Regions from separate parts of the Homo sapiens genome. Here all the other regions are reported to be linked to region 2. The links are microRNA targets in miRTarBase. Many come from high-throughput screens and were not tested one by one. Region 2 holds a microRNA gene; each other region holds the end of a gene's coding sequence.

The links. The annotated mature microRNA hsa-miR-5189-5p reads UCUGGGCACAGGCGGAUGGACAGG and lies in region 2 at 1,371-1,394, opposite strand. An mRNA with a match to its seed (bases 2 to 7 or 8) in the 3' UTR can be bound and repressed. Matches are read on the target gene's strand: a 7mer-m8 pairs with bases 2 to 8, a 7mer-A1 pairs with bases 2 to 7 and ends in A, and an 8mer does both.
Region 1: the mRNA of SUSD5 is a reported target of hsa-miR-5189-5p. Seed matches in the 3' UTR shown: 7mer-m8 at 2,194-2,200 and 7mer-m8 at 2,076-2,082.
Region 3: miRTarBase lists F2RL2 as a target of hsa-miR-5189-5p. Seed matches in the 3' UTR shown: 7mer-m8 at 805-811 and 7mer-m8 at 1,452-1,458.
Region 4: the mRNA of EVC is a reported target of hsa-miR-5189-5p. Seed matches in the 3' UTR shown: 8mer at 1,867-1,874, 7mer-m8 at 2,374-2,380 and 7mer-A1 at 2,776-2,782.

The regions. Positions count from the first base shown.
Region 1 is chr3:33,150,200-33,153,271 of GRCh38, forward strand. It overlaps SUSD5 (sushi domain containing 5), which reads right to left. Exons shown (of 5, transcript NM_015551.2): 5 at 1-3,072. The coding sequence ends at 2,543. Among named protein-coding and RNA genes, the nearest start is that of CRTAP, 38 kb to the left of the region's middle. RefSeq lists an enhancer at 2,616-3,072.
Region 2 is chr16:88,467,265-88,470,336 of GRCh38, reverse strand. It overlaps MIR5189 (microRNA 5189), which reads right to left and starts at 1,419; the gene lies at 1,306-1,419. The region is part of intron 1 of ZFPM1 (zinc finger protein, FOG family member 1); the gene reads right to left.
Region 3 is chr5:76,615,055-76,618,116 of GRCh38, reverse strand. F2RL2 (coagulation factor II thrombin receptor like 2) reads left to right here. Exons shown (of 2, transcript NM_004101.4): 2 at 1-2,635. The coding sequence ends at 535. The region is part of intron 13 of IQGAP2 (IQ motif containing GTPase activating protein 2); the gene reads right to left. Among named protein-coding and RNA genes, the nearest start is that of F2RL2, 6.8 kb to the left of the region's middle.
Region 4 is chr4:5,810,867-5,813,935 of GRCh38, forward strand. It overlaps EVC (EvC ciliary complex subunit 1), which reads left to right. Exons shown (of 21, transcript NM_153717.3): 21 at 87-3,069. The coding sequence ends at 171. Among named protein-coding and RNA genes, the nearest start is that of CRMP1, 81 kb to the right of the region's middle. RefSeq lists an enhancer at 2,116-2,165.

The DNA.
Region 1 (3,072 bases), not on the chromosome of region 2:
ATTTTTAGATTCTATAACATTAATTTAGAGGATACCACACCAATAAGAACTTAAAAACTGATGTGTTGGGTTTATTTCACAGTCCATGTCTACAAATAAAACATTTACCTGTATTAATAATTTGTAATAAATTTATTAATACACTGTATTAATAATTTGTAATAAATTTATTAATACACTGTATTAATATTGCCTATTTGTTGGTATAAATCCAATGTTCTGGGTTATTCCACAATAATAGTTGCTAACACAGTCCCAATGCTGAGACAGAGGTTATTTTATATAGTTAAAAATAGAAAAGTTATCTTGCAGTAGATTAGGATCTAATTTATAAATATATACAGTCTCTGGCTTTTATTCTATTATGTTTTGCTTTGGCTACATGCAGAAAGCATTTTATTCCTATTGTTCTTGACTTCGTCTGATGCACAGGTATTCTAGTTGGTACCTTCAGGCTTTATTTTACCCAACTATGGGGAATAAGATCTTTGATTATGCTGCCTCTCTTTACAGCTACTTCGCCTATTACTTTTCCAAAGCTTGCTGAAAAGAGGTGGCAGGGTAGAAAACATGTTGCGAATGTTTTTTTTCCTTAGGTAAAACACCACCAACAATTTTTCAATCATAAAAAAGATCAGGATTTCCCTCTACCACACAAAAACACTTAGACTGCTATGGTGTCTCAAAATAAATGTGTTGCATTCATCACTTTTTACCACTGATAACTATTTCTAAGAAGGTGATTCATATTAGAAAAATATAACATGTTTCATTTCTGTGCCAACATACAGGAGACTATTGCAGGTGGCATTTAGGCAGCTTCAAATGCCACCTCAGCTGCACACAGCCATGCCTGACTTCCACACAACACACACCACATACTCATCTGTGCCTTTAGGGCTTCAGCTGGCCTCGAAGTTCACATTTGAGATTATTATAAACCAACAGGCTCTCAAACTTGAGTGCATATCAAAATCACCTGGAGGGCTTGTTAAAAACAGAACTGGGCCCTACTCCCAGGGTTCCTGTTTCCTGAGTCCAGGGTGGGACTAGAGAATTTGCATCTCCAACAAATTCCCAGGTGACGCTGATGCTACTGGTCTGAGGACCACACTTTGAGAACCACTGCCATAAACCATCCTCGCTGAGCCACCCTAAGATGATTTAGATGCTACGAAATGGGTTACCCAACAGACAGGATGGATTCTGTTTCCACAGAGCTCCCAGTTTCCACACTAGAGAACAGATCAGCACAGATCATTTCATATTCTTTCACAGATTCTTCTGCTTCTCCATCAAGTATGTGCCCATACTTGATAACCTGGTGTTCGGCCCTCTGAAAACATTTCTTTTTTTTTTCTCCCGTGTCATTCTCTCTTACTGGAGTTCAGAGAAATGGTTAATCCTGAGAGAGGAAACCAAGGACTGAGTTTTGTTAGTCCTGGCAAAAATTCCAAGACATTCCTAGGCACAGACTGGTCAAGGACAACTAGGCCACTGCTTCTGAGAGGAAATGGTACTTACTGGTACAAAGCTAACTTTGTTTTTAAAAAATAATGGCAAATCCTTAACCATGAAATATTGAAAATAAAATAAAATAAATGACAGACTGTCCCACAGAATGGAGGGAACAGAGGGGGATGTGTGTTTCTTCACTCCTCAACTCCCCCAACAAAATGTCAGTCTTAAATTCTAATTTCAAGAAACAATGAAAAAAGAAACCTCAAAGCTTCTAGACTGTGTCCTGGCTCTTGGTTCATCTGCCCTCAGCAACATCACAACATTAAAAGGAAACAACCCATTATTCTTCCATATTCCTCTCCCAATAATTCAATATCCATGTCCTAGATAATACTGCTCTCATACACTTGGTTTATCATGACTATTTATAAAATTTCAGGGCATGAAGCTGGTGATTTTCTTTCTTCAAAAAGGTAATACTGTGATGTGGCTCACACCTGGAATCCTAGCACTTTGGGAGGCTAAGGAGGGCAGATCACTTGAGGTCAGGAGTTCTTGACCAGCCTGGCCAACATGGTGAAACTCCATCTCTACTAAAAATATAAAAAAATTAGCTGGGCATGGTGGTGCATGCCTGTAATCCCACCTACTTGGGAGGCTGAGGCAGGAGAATTGCTTGAACTTGGGAGGCAGAGGTTGCAGTGAGCTCAGATCGGGACACTGCACTCCAGCCTGGGCAACAGCATGAGACTCTGTCTCAAAAAAAAAAAGATAATACTGTGATGAAGGAAGAGGCGATTTTTGACCTCACACTGGAAACAGGGCCCAAGCACAGGTCTGGGATTAGTGTAGTCAATTCCAGGGCAGATGGTGGAGGAGACATTGACATGAGTGATGATGTCACCAAAGCCTCCCTGCCCTCCCAGGTGCTCCAGAGACACTTCTCAGCCTATAAAACAAAGGGCTGAGGAAAAAATGATGAGCCTCAGTCCACCTGCGTCATGCTCTAGTGAATTATCGTGTGATGTGTCACAGTTATTTTCCTCCCAAGTGGCTTTGGGAGAACCCACTCCAAAGGTGCCTAGACCTTCTCCATCTCGATCTGCTGGTGGTAGTGCCGAGCCTGCCGCTGGCCAACATTCAGCTTGTACACAGAGCTCTTGTGCTGGCACTTGCGGTAGCCCCACACCATCCCCACACCTGCCAGGAGCAGCAGTAGGCACAGGACGGTGACAATGGTGGCGATCACAGGGCCTCTGCTGAGGCCAGGACATCCGTCCCCCACACACGACTCCAAGGTGGGATGAAGCTCCTCACTTGCACCTGGCCCGGGGCCTTCCTGTCCAAAGAAGTCTTCAGACAGCAGGTATGGGAAGCTATCCTGGATCTCAGGAACAGTGGTTTCTACTGGAGGCTGGGTGGTTGCCATGATCGTTGAGGGGATGTGGTTAGGTGTCTGCTTGACAGTGTTCACTGTTAATATCTCCAGGGTGGAGCTGGTGAGCTCATAGGACAGGGTGGCCATGGGAGATTCCTCTGTGATGAATCTCCAGGGTAGAGTTGACTGGTACTTCGTCAAGTCACCATCCCCAATGCCCTCAGTCTCGGAAG
Region 2 (3,072 bases):
ACAGGTTTGGAGAGTACAGGGGACACCCGTGGGCATCCAGAGGCTGCCCGCCCCAACCCGTCCAGCAGCCCTGTCCCCAGGACAGGTGGGGTGGCCCTGACAGCAAGGACCCCGCAGGAGTGAGTCACAGCCCCAGCACAGGGACAAGGACCGTGGCTCTCCACAGGCGATGCTCCTACACGGGAGGGGCCTTTGCCCAGGACAATGCTGGCTCTGGAGGCCCTGGCTTTTTCTCCGTTTCCTTTTTCCTTCTGCTTGCTTTGCCTCTGGGGACACAGCCAGGCACAGGGAGCAGATCCAGAAATCAGCTGGGGAGTATTTATGGAGCACCTACTGTATGCCCCAAGCTGTCCTGGGAGAGGACAGAGCTGCCTGCATGTGTGGAGACCCCTCTGCAGACTGGGAGGGCTGCGTGGGGAGATCCTCTGGGCTGGGCACGCACCTCTGACCCTCACCACGTGAGAGGCACTGCACCCCACGTTAGGGGGTGGGGCCCTGGCCAAGGTGATGTCTGGTTCTGGTCGGACGGCCCCTCCCTACTTCCTCTCCTTAGATCTCAGCCCAGACTCTTTCTCTCCTCGCCCCGCCACTATTTTCCACTTACACATTTTTGACAAACACCCACACCTGTGGCTGATTTTCAGGTGCCGTGGGAGCTGACAGGGCCTCCAGCCAGGTCTCAGGCCGGCGGAGCCTGCCTCATCCTGGTCTTGCCAGCAAGACCCACTGTGCAGTGTGGGTGGATGCAGAACACAGGTGCATGCCCCCTAAGGTGTCCTAAGCCCCCTGTAGACATGGTCTCCTGGCACATGAATTTCTGACAATGGGAAATCTGGAAGACCCCAGGTTTCCAGGCTATGCCACAGCCACAGACAGGAGGACCCCCAGAGAACCTGCCACCTCAGCCTCATGGTGTGGAAGGGGAAACTGAGGCCCAGGCCGGCAAGGGGCTTGCTGAAGAGCCCAGAAACCATCCTGGGAGGCAGACCTACTAGACCGCCTTCCGGTTTTACAGATGGGGAGGCTGAGGGTGGGCAAAGGGGTTGGGACTGTCATTCATTAAGATGGTGCCACGTCCCTGGCCCGGCCGGCACTTCAGAAGCTTGGCAGAATGAGGTTCCGGATGGAAGTCAGCGCGGGGAGAGGGTGGAGCGGTGGGGGGCAGCCTGCAGGAGGGTCTGGAGTGGGCCCAGACATGGGGGTGGGAGGCTGGCTGGCCCCAGGGCCGTCCCTGCCGGGTTGTGAAACTCGCTGTTCCCATCTGGGAGTGGCTGCTGGCTGCACTCCTCTCGGGAACTCCTGGGTCCTGGTCCCCAACTGAGGCCACGTGGGTCTGGGCTCTGACGGTTGGCAGGTCATCCAGAGGCCAGCCTGTCCATCCGCCTGTGCCCAGACAGCGAGGCCCCTAAAAGGCGGGCCCTTCCAGAGCCGGTGGTGGTGGTGGCAGAGGTCTCCCGTCCTGGGGCAGGGTCCAGGATGGGAACTACTCCCCCAGGTCAAGGGCAGCCCCTGGAGGAGGCCCTGCCCCCACACAGCAGCTCAGCCAATCCCTGGGCCTCACCCCTGCTCATTTGCATACCCCATTTCCATTGGCTGCCAACAGGCTGGTTAGGACAGTGGTGCCCTGGCCATGGGGGTGGGGCTCTGGGGGGCGGGGCCCTGGGGGTATCAGATTCTGGGTGACTGGTCCCAGCCCCAAGTCTAGGGTCAGAAAGCTGCATGGGGCTGGTGGGGGGCTTCAGTTACAGTGCAGGCTCTCCCCTTTCCTCGAAGGCTCCCTGACATCCATTCAGGGATGACTCTGAGTGGGAAAGATACTGGTCCAAGGTCGTACAGCCAAGAGGCCGGCACAGCTGGGACCTGGCCCCAAGTCCCAACCCCTCTCCAAGGCCGGCCTCTTTTCTCCTGTGGGGGCCTGTTGAGAGCGACTTCTTATTTTTGGCTGCCTTGTTTCAGGGAGGGCTATTTGGGGGCTTTCTTTGCAAAATGATGATGATGATGACTTTCAGAGCACCCCGAGTGCTCAGCTCTCCCTCTAGATCTGGTGGCTCTGTGCGCCGCAGGCAGTGGGCTCGCGGGTGCGTCGGGACGGTGGGCTCGCGGGTGCTTGAGGGGCGGTGGGCTCGCGGGTGCTTGAGGGGCGGTGGGCTCGCGGGTGCGTCAGGGCCTGTGGGCTCGCGGGTGGGTCAGGGGCAGTGGGCTCGCGGGTGCGTGAGGGGCGGTGGGCTCGCAGGTGCGTCAGCGGCCGGTGGGCTCGCGGGTGGGTCGGGGCGGTGGGCTCGCGGGGGCGTGAGGGGCGGTGGGCTCGCGGGTGTGTGAGGGGCGGTGGGGGGCTCGCGGGTGTGCGGGTTGAGAGTGTGTTCTCACTTTTGTTCCTGGCATTAGGGTGGGGTGAGATAAGGGGAAGGGGGGCCGCTCAGCTCGAGCAAGCAGATAGATAACGGCGATAGCACCTCCTCCACCGCACAGCACGCATCGCCCTTTTTTATCAAGTTCTCTTTTCTTCTTTTTCGTTGTAGGGTGGTAGAGTAGAAAACACCCCACCCCCACCTCCCAAAGCCATGGAACTAGGGGGTGGGGGCCTCCCCATCTCAGGTCCCAGCCACAAAGGGCACGGGTCAGCTTAGGGCCCGCTGTGCCCAACACGCCCAGCAGCCAGCCCAGAGCCCGTGACTGGAGGAGGGAGGGGATCCAAGGCAGCTGCGAGGCCCGGGGTCCGGAGGTCCCAGCATGACAGGAGCAGCTGCGCATGTGCCCTGCAAGGCAGGTCTCGCGGTCTACACCATCAGCTCCTTGAAAGGACTCTGAGAGGGCGACTGGCACCCCATTTTATAGGAAAAGGCAGCAAAGCCCAGAGAAGTGAAGTGTCACTGGGGCGGGTGCTGAGCTCCTTCCTCGAGAAGCCCTGGGTGGGCACCGCTGGGAGGGGTGGGGAGACCTCAGGGGGGTTGGCCATGGCCTGCAGGGCAGGCTTAGCGGTGTCGGCCCTATTTGACAGATGAGGAAACTGAGACCTGAGACTCTGGGATGTGTGTGAGAACCAGGGCCATGGGGACAGATGCTGTACCCCCT
Region 3 (3,062 bases), not on the chromosome of region 2:
TCCTTTCACCTACCGGGGCCTGCCCAAGCACACCTATGCCTTGGTAACATGTGGACTGGTGTGGGCAACAGTTTTCTTATATATGCTGCCATTTTTCATACTGAAGCAGGAATATTATCTTGTTCAGCCAGACATCACCACCTGCCATGATGTTCACAACACTTGCGAGTCCTCATCTCCCTTCCAACTCTATTACTTCATCTCCTTGGCATTCTTTGGATTCTTAATTCCATTTGTGCTTATCATCTACTGCTATGCAGCCATCATCCGGACACTTAATGCATACGATCATAGATGGTTGTGGTATGTTAAGGCGAGTCTCCTCATCCTTGTGATTTTTACCATTTGCTTTGCTCCAAGCAATATTATTCTTATTATTCACCATGCTAACTACTACTACAACAACACTGATGGCTTATATTTTATATATCTCATAGCTTTGTGCCTGGGTAGTCTTAATAGTTGCTTAGATCCATTCCTTTATTTTCTCATGTCAAAAACCAGAAATCACTCCACTGCTTACCTTACAAAATAGTGAAATGATCTTAGAGAACAAGGACAGCCATCACAGAGAACGTCTGTTTTCAAGAACAACATAAGCATAGTGCAAGGAGCTCCATTTCCGAGCTCCTAAGAAATATGCTTCAAAGGTCAAACATTACAAAAGCATTAGTAGTTTGTTTGTTTGTTTTTGAGACTGAGTCTCACTTTATCACCCAGACTGGCGTGCAGTGGCACTATCTTGGCTCATTGCAACCTCTGCCTCCCAGGTCAGCCTCCCAAGTAGCTGGGATTACACCACCATGCCCAGCTACTAAAAATACTTGTATTTTTAGTAGAGACGGGGTTTCACCATGTTGACCAGGCTGGTCTTGAACTCCTGACCTCAAGTGATCTTCCGGCCTCAGCCTCCCAAAGTGCTGGATTACAGGCGTGAGCCACTGAGCCAGCCAGCATTAGTAATTTTTAAAAACACTTTATCAGTATTTTAAAAATGTTAATGCAGGAGAAAAGATATCACAACTCTATGGAAAATGACATTTCCATTTGCCTTATTGCTACTTCAAGCTCTTTAAATCACCATCTTCCCTATTTCTGTGAGTGGTATTGCCATCCTTGACATTTGACATCATTTTTTATTCTTTGGTCTCTTTTGACTCTCATGCTGGTGGCTGCCTCATCAACTGATTCTATCTTTGTAGGGTCCCTCACCAGGGTCTTTTATCTAGTTTCACCTTTGCCTTCTTTTTTCCTTTTTTTAATAGAGACAGTGTCTCGCTTCGTCACCTGGCTGAAGTGCAGTAGCCTGATCATAGCTCACTTCAGCCTCCAACTCCTGGGCTCAAGCAATCCTGCTGTCTCAGCCTCCCAAGTAACTAAGACTACAGGCATGCACCACCATACCCAACTAATTTTATTTTTTATTTTTTGCAGAGATGGAGTCTCACTGTTGCCCAGGCTGGTCTTGAACTCCTGGTCTCGAGTGATCTTCCTATCTCAGCCTCCCAAAGTGCTGGGACTACAGGCATGAGCCACTACGTCCAGGCCACCTCTACCTTCTAACCATTCTCTCCACTGCCAGCCTACCCTCCACCACTTCACAAGTCCTGCCAGATTAATCTTCCTTAGATATCAGTTAGGATACATCACTAAAACATTTCCACTAACTCCACTGTTTCTATAATAAATCATAAATCTTTAGCCTGGCATTCAAGGCTAACTTGCTAATCACACTTCCCATTAAACCTTGCTTATGATATAGGCACCAACCAAACCTCTTGCTCTGCTATATCTCCACTCTGCCTCAGACTGAAAAGCTAGTCCTAACGTCTTTGCCTTAATTCTGTTCATTTTTTCAAGTCCTTGAAGGACCATTCTTCCCTGATTCTCAGGCTAGAAGTGTCACTTTTCTTATCTGTACTTCCAAAGCACTTTCGTATATTTTTATTATGGCATTTATATATAGTTCATTTATATTTAAATTTTAATTCCATGAACAATCAAGTACCAAGTATAATGGAGAAGGTGCTCATCCTCTGCCTTCCTTGAGCTTCTGGGTGATGCCAGGCCCAAGTCTTTGTGGCACCCAGCTCCATGCTTTGAATACTATGTGGCTGAATGAATTTTTAAAATCTCAAAGCAGTTAAACAGCAGGAAAGCCCATTAACTTCGTACTGAAAAAGCAACATACTGTGATGATACGGGATGACATCATTTCAGGTTGGGCATACAAAAAAGTAAGGAAGCTAAACTAAGACTATACTCACCAGGCCATTTAGAAGTTTTAAATAATGCCTCCACTATTTTTTTTCTTAGACATAGCTTTTAATGGGGAAATGGAATTTTGTTATTAATACCCATTATATTCCTGTAAGTAAATGACTATTTTTCCCTTAACTCAGTGATTAGACAGGAAGGAAGACATTAGTGATTAGACAGGAGGGAAGATATTAGTGATTAGACAGCAGGGAAGATATTAGTGGTAAAGAGTGAATGATAGTAGTGAATATAAATGGGGCTGAGGAAACTTTAAGCATAAAAGATTCCTGAGATGACTTTACAAGTCTGTACGAATCTGCCTTGACTGTATATTTCATACTGCCCAACAAAACAATAAAAAACAATTTTAAATGCATATTTTTAAATGTACACAGTTTTCTATTTCATCAGACTTAAGTAAAAAGCTTCCACATGAAGACCCTTTATAATATGTGTGTGGTTATGCAAAGAGCAAAACTCAGGTAAACACTAAAGTGAGAATGAAAAACAAACCTAAAGTAAGTTTCAAGAAGATAGAAACTTAAATGGAAGGAGCTGACTTCTGAAAACTAAGTCATCAATTACAACACAGTTTTACCTAAGGAAAAAATACAGCAATATTCGTTAAAAGCACACAGTTTTTATGGTATATACAAGGAGCAAAACAGAACTTTTTGGTGGAGTATAACTCATATGTTCACAAGCAAAACCTTCAATTGTAAAATAGCACACACCACCCAGTGAACAGACATAGAAAAAGTGTTAAAGTCAACATGACCATTACTCAAGTCTCTTTCCAAGAG
Region 4 (3,069 bases), not on the chromosome of region 2:
TCATTTAATCCGATTGGGTAAGTTATGGCATCATGATGGGCATGGAGTCAGCGTTCTAACTGGCTGCCTTTCTTCTCTGTTTTAAGCAGCAAAAGGCTGAGTCAGCAAGAAAGTGAAGCTGGGGACAGTGGGAACTCAAAGAAGATGCTAAAGAGAAGAAGCAACTTGTAGTTTAAGACCAGTCGGTGGGACAAGACCTGAAGCCCTGGGTCTGGGTGTGAATTCCACCTTCCCTCCTGCAGTGCTGAGAGGCAGCGAGGACGGAGAGGACAGCGGCATCTCTAGGCTCTTCTGAGAGGGACAGAGAAAGAATAGAAATGTGCCCTAAAAGCATAAATGAGTATCACCTGAGAAAATTAGGCATTCCCGTCTTGGAAACACGTCTCTGTGAGTTTGCATTTCATTTGGCTTGGAGCCCTGGCTCGATGCCTCATGGATCTTTCTCCCCAAGGAGGGACGTCTTGAGGGGTCCGAGCCTCAGGCCAAGGACCCCTGATGCAGACTCTGGAATCCCTGGCCCAAAGGCCTGTCTGGGCCCATCTGGGGCTGAGGACACACAGATACATAATGACACCTGCAGAAATGTATTCTCTGAGGACACTTAGAATATGAGGAAGAGGGTGTGGCCCAACCCTCACTTCACCTGGGGAGGGGCTTCTTCCGGACAGTAGACACCCTGCCCGTGCAGAGAGATGTCATGGGGGCACCTGCTCTCCCTGATAGATGCTGAGAGCATCCAGAAACTTCCAGACCAGCCCTCTCACCACACCCAGAAGAGGCCTTTCCCATCTGGAGAGAAGCTTCCAGACCAGCCCTTCACACACCACAGCCAGGAGGGGCCTTTCCCACCTGGAGAGAAACTTCCAGACCAGCCCCTCATACCACAGCCAAGAGGGGCCTTTCTCACCTGGAGAGAAATTTCCAGACCATCCCCTCTCACCACAGCCAGGAGAGGCCTTTCCCACCGGTAGAGAAACTTCCAGACCAGCCCCTCACACCACAGCCAAGAGAAGCCTTTCCAGCCTGGAGAGAAACTTCCAGACCAGCCCTCTCACTACAGCCAGGAGAGGCCTTTCCCGCCTGGAAACTTCCGGACAAGCCTCTCACACACCACAGCCAGGAGAGGCCTTTCCCACCTGGACAGAAACTTCCAGACCAGCCCCTCTCACCACAGCCAGGAGAGGCCTTTACCACCTGGAGAGAAGCTTCCAGACCAGCCCCTCACACCACAGCCAGGAGAGGCCTTTCCCACCTGGAGAGAAACTTCCAGACCAGCCCCTCATACCACAGCCAAGAGGGGCCTTTCTCACCTGGAGAGAAACTTCCAGACCAGCCCCTCACACCACCGCCAGGAGAGGCCTTTCCCACCGGGAGAGAAACTTCCAGACCAGCCCCTCACACCACAGCCAGGAGAGGCCTTTCCCACCGGGAGAGAAACTTCCAGACCAGCCCTCTCACTACAGCCAGAAGAGGCCTTTCCCACCGGGAGAGGAACTTCCAGACCAGCCCCTCACACCACAGCCAGGAGAGGCCTTTCCCGCCTGGAGAGAAGCTTCAGGCCAGCTCCTCACACCACAGCCAGGAGAGACCTTTTCTGCCTGGAGAGAAACTTTCAGACCAGCCCCACACACCACAGCCAGGAGAGGCCGTTCCTGCCTGGAGAGAAGCTTCCAGACCAGCCCTTCACACCACAGCCAGGAGAGGCCTTTCCCACCTGGAGAGAAACTTCCAGACCAGCCCCTCTCACCACAGCCAGGAGAGGCCGTTCCCACCTGGAGGGAAAATTGCTCCTTTGATGGAGGTTAGGGACTGTCACCCTCAGCACTGTGAACATACCGGGCGAGATCATTCTTCAGGGGAAGGAGCTGCCCAGAGCATCACAGGATGTTCCAGTGTCCCTGGTCTCTGCCCACCAGATGCCAGCACTCCCACCATTCGTGGCAACCAAGGATGTCTCCAGACACTGCCCCGTGTCCATGGGGTTATCACCCACTGTGCTGAGTCAAAGGGTGCCTTGCCCTGGTCTAATCCAGGACATAGCCGTGGATACGTCCAAAAATCCCCAGAACCTAGTGAGCCCTCTGGCTCTGGGAGCCCCTATCTCAGGAATTTTCAGGGTCATTTGTGACTTTTCATTTCTTAAAACCTGAAATAGACTCTCTTAGAAACAAGTGACTCCTTCCCAGTGGCCAAAACTTAATCATCAGAGCGCTTCCTTCAGTTCCTCACCCATCAGCCAGTGGGCTCTCCAAAGTTAACCAACAGCTCCCTCTTGTGGTTCACTAAAAAACTTGGTTATTCCATGGAGTTGTGCAAAGCTATGGCTTCCTTGGTGCAATATTCTTAAAACCTGCTTTGCATAGAAATCACTTTTGCCCAGGCTGGAGTGCAGTGGCGTGATCTCGGCTCATGGCAATCTCCATCTCCCGGGTTCAAGCGATTTTCCTGCCTCAGCCTCCCCAGTAGCTGGGACTACAGACGTGTGCCACCACGCCTGGCTAAATCTTTTTTGTATTTTATTTTAGTAGAGACGGGGTTTCACCATACTGGCCAGGCTGCTCTCGAACTCCTGACCTCATCGTCCACCTGCCTCGGCCTCCCCAAAGTGCTGAGATTAGGCGTTAGCCACCGCGCCCGGCCAGAAATCACTTTTATATTGTCACATGGGCCCTCTGCACAGAGTCCGATGGCTCCTCCCGGGGAAGCCTGATTTTGTGACGTGTGTATAGTAAATGCAGGCCCTCTGGCAGCACCATAATTGGTCGGTTACCCTGAGCCCAGAGCTCTGAAAGCATCTGTGGAATGATCACGGGACCCTTCTCCTCTGAGAAGGCTCCCGGCTGCCTCCCCGCCACCGAGCTTGTAGCCTGAATGCCTGGCTGTCGCATGGAGCATTTTGCTTCTGGGGTGTCTTCCTTAGCCAAAGGGAACGTGTCATTTGCTCGACCCTGGCCCACCCTTGCCGCCCAGCTGTTGTGCTGGGCACAGTCTGGGGCACAGGCCTCCATGATGAAGACGCGTGGGCTGTCGGTGCTTTCATCCGTCACAAACTGGCACCTGTACCTGCCA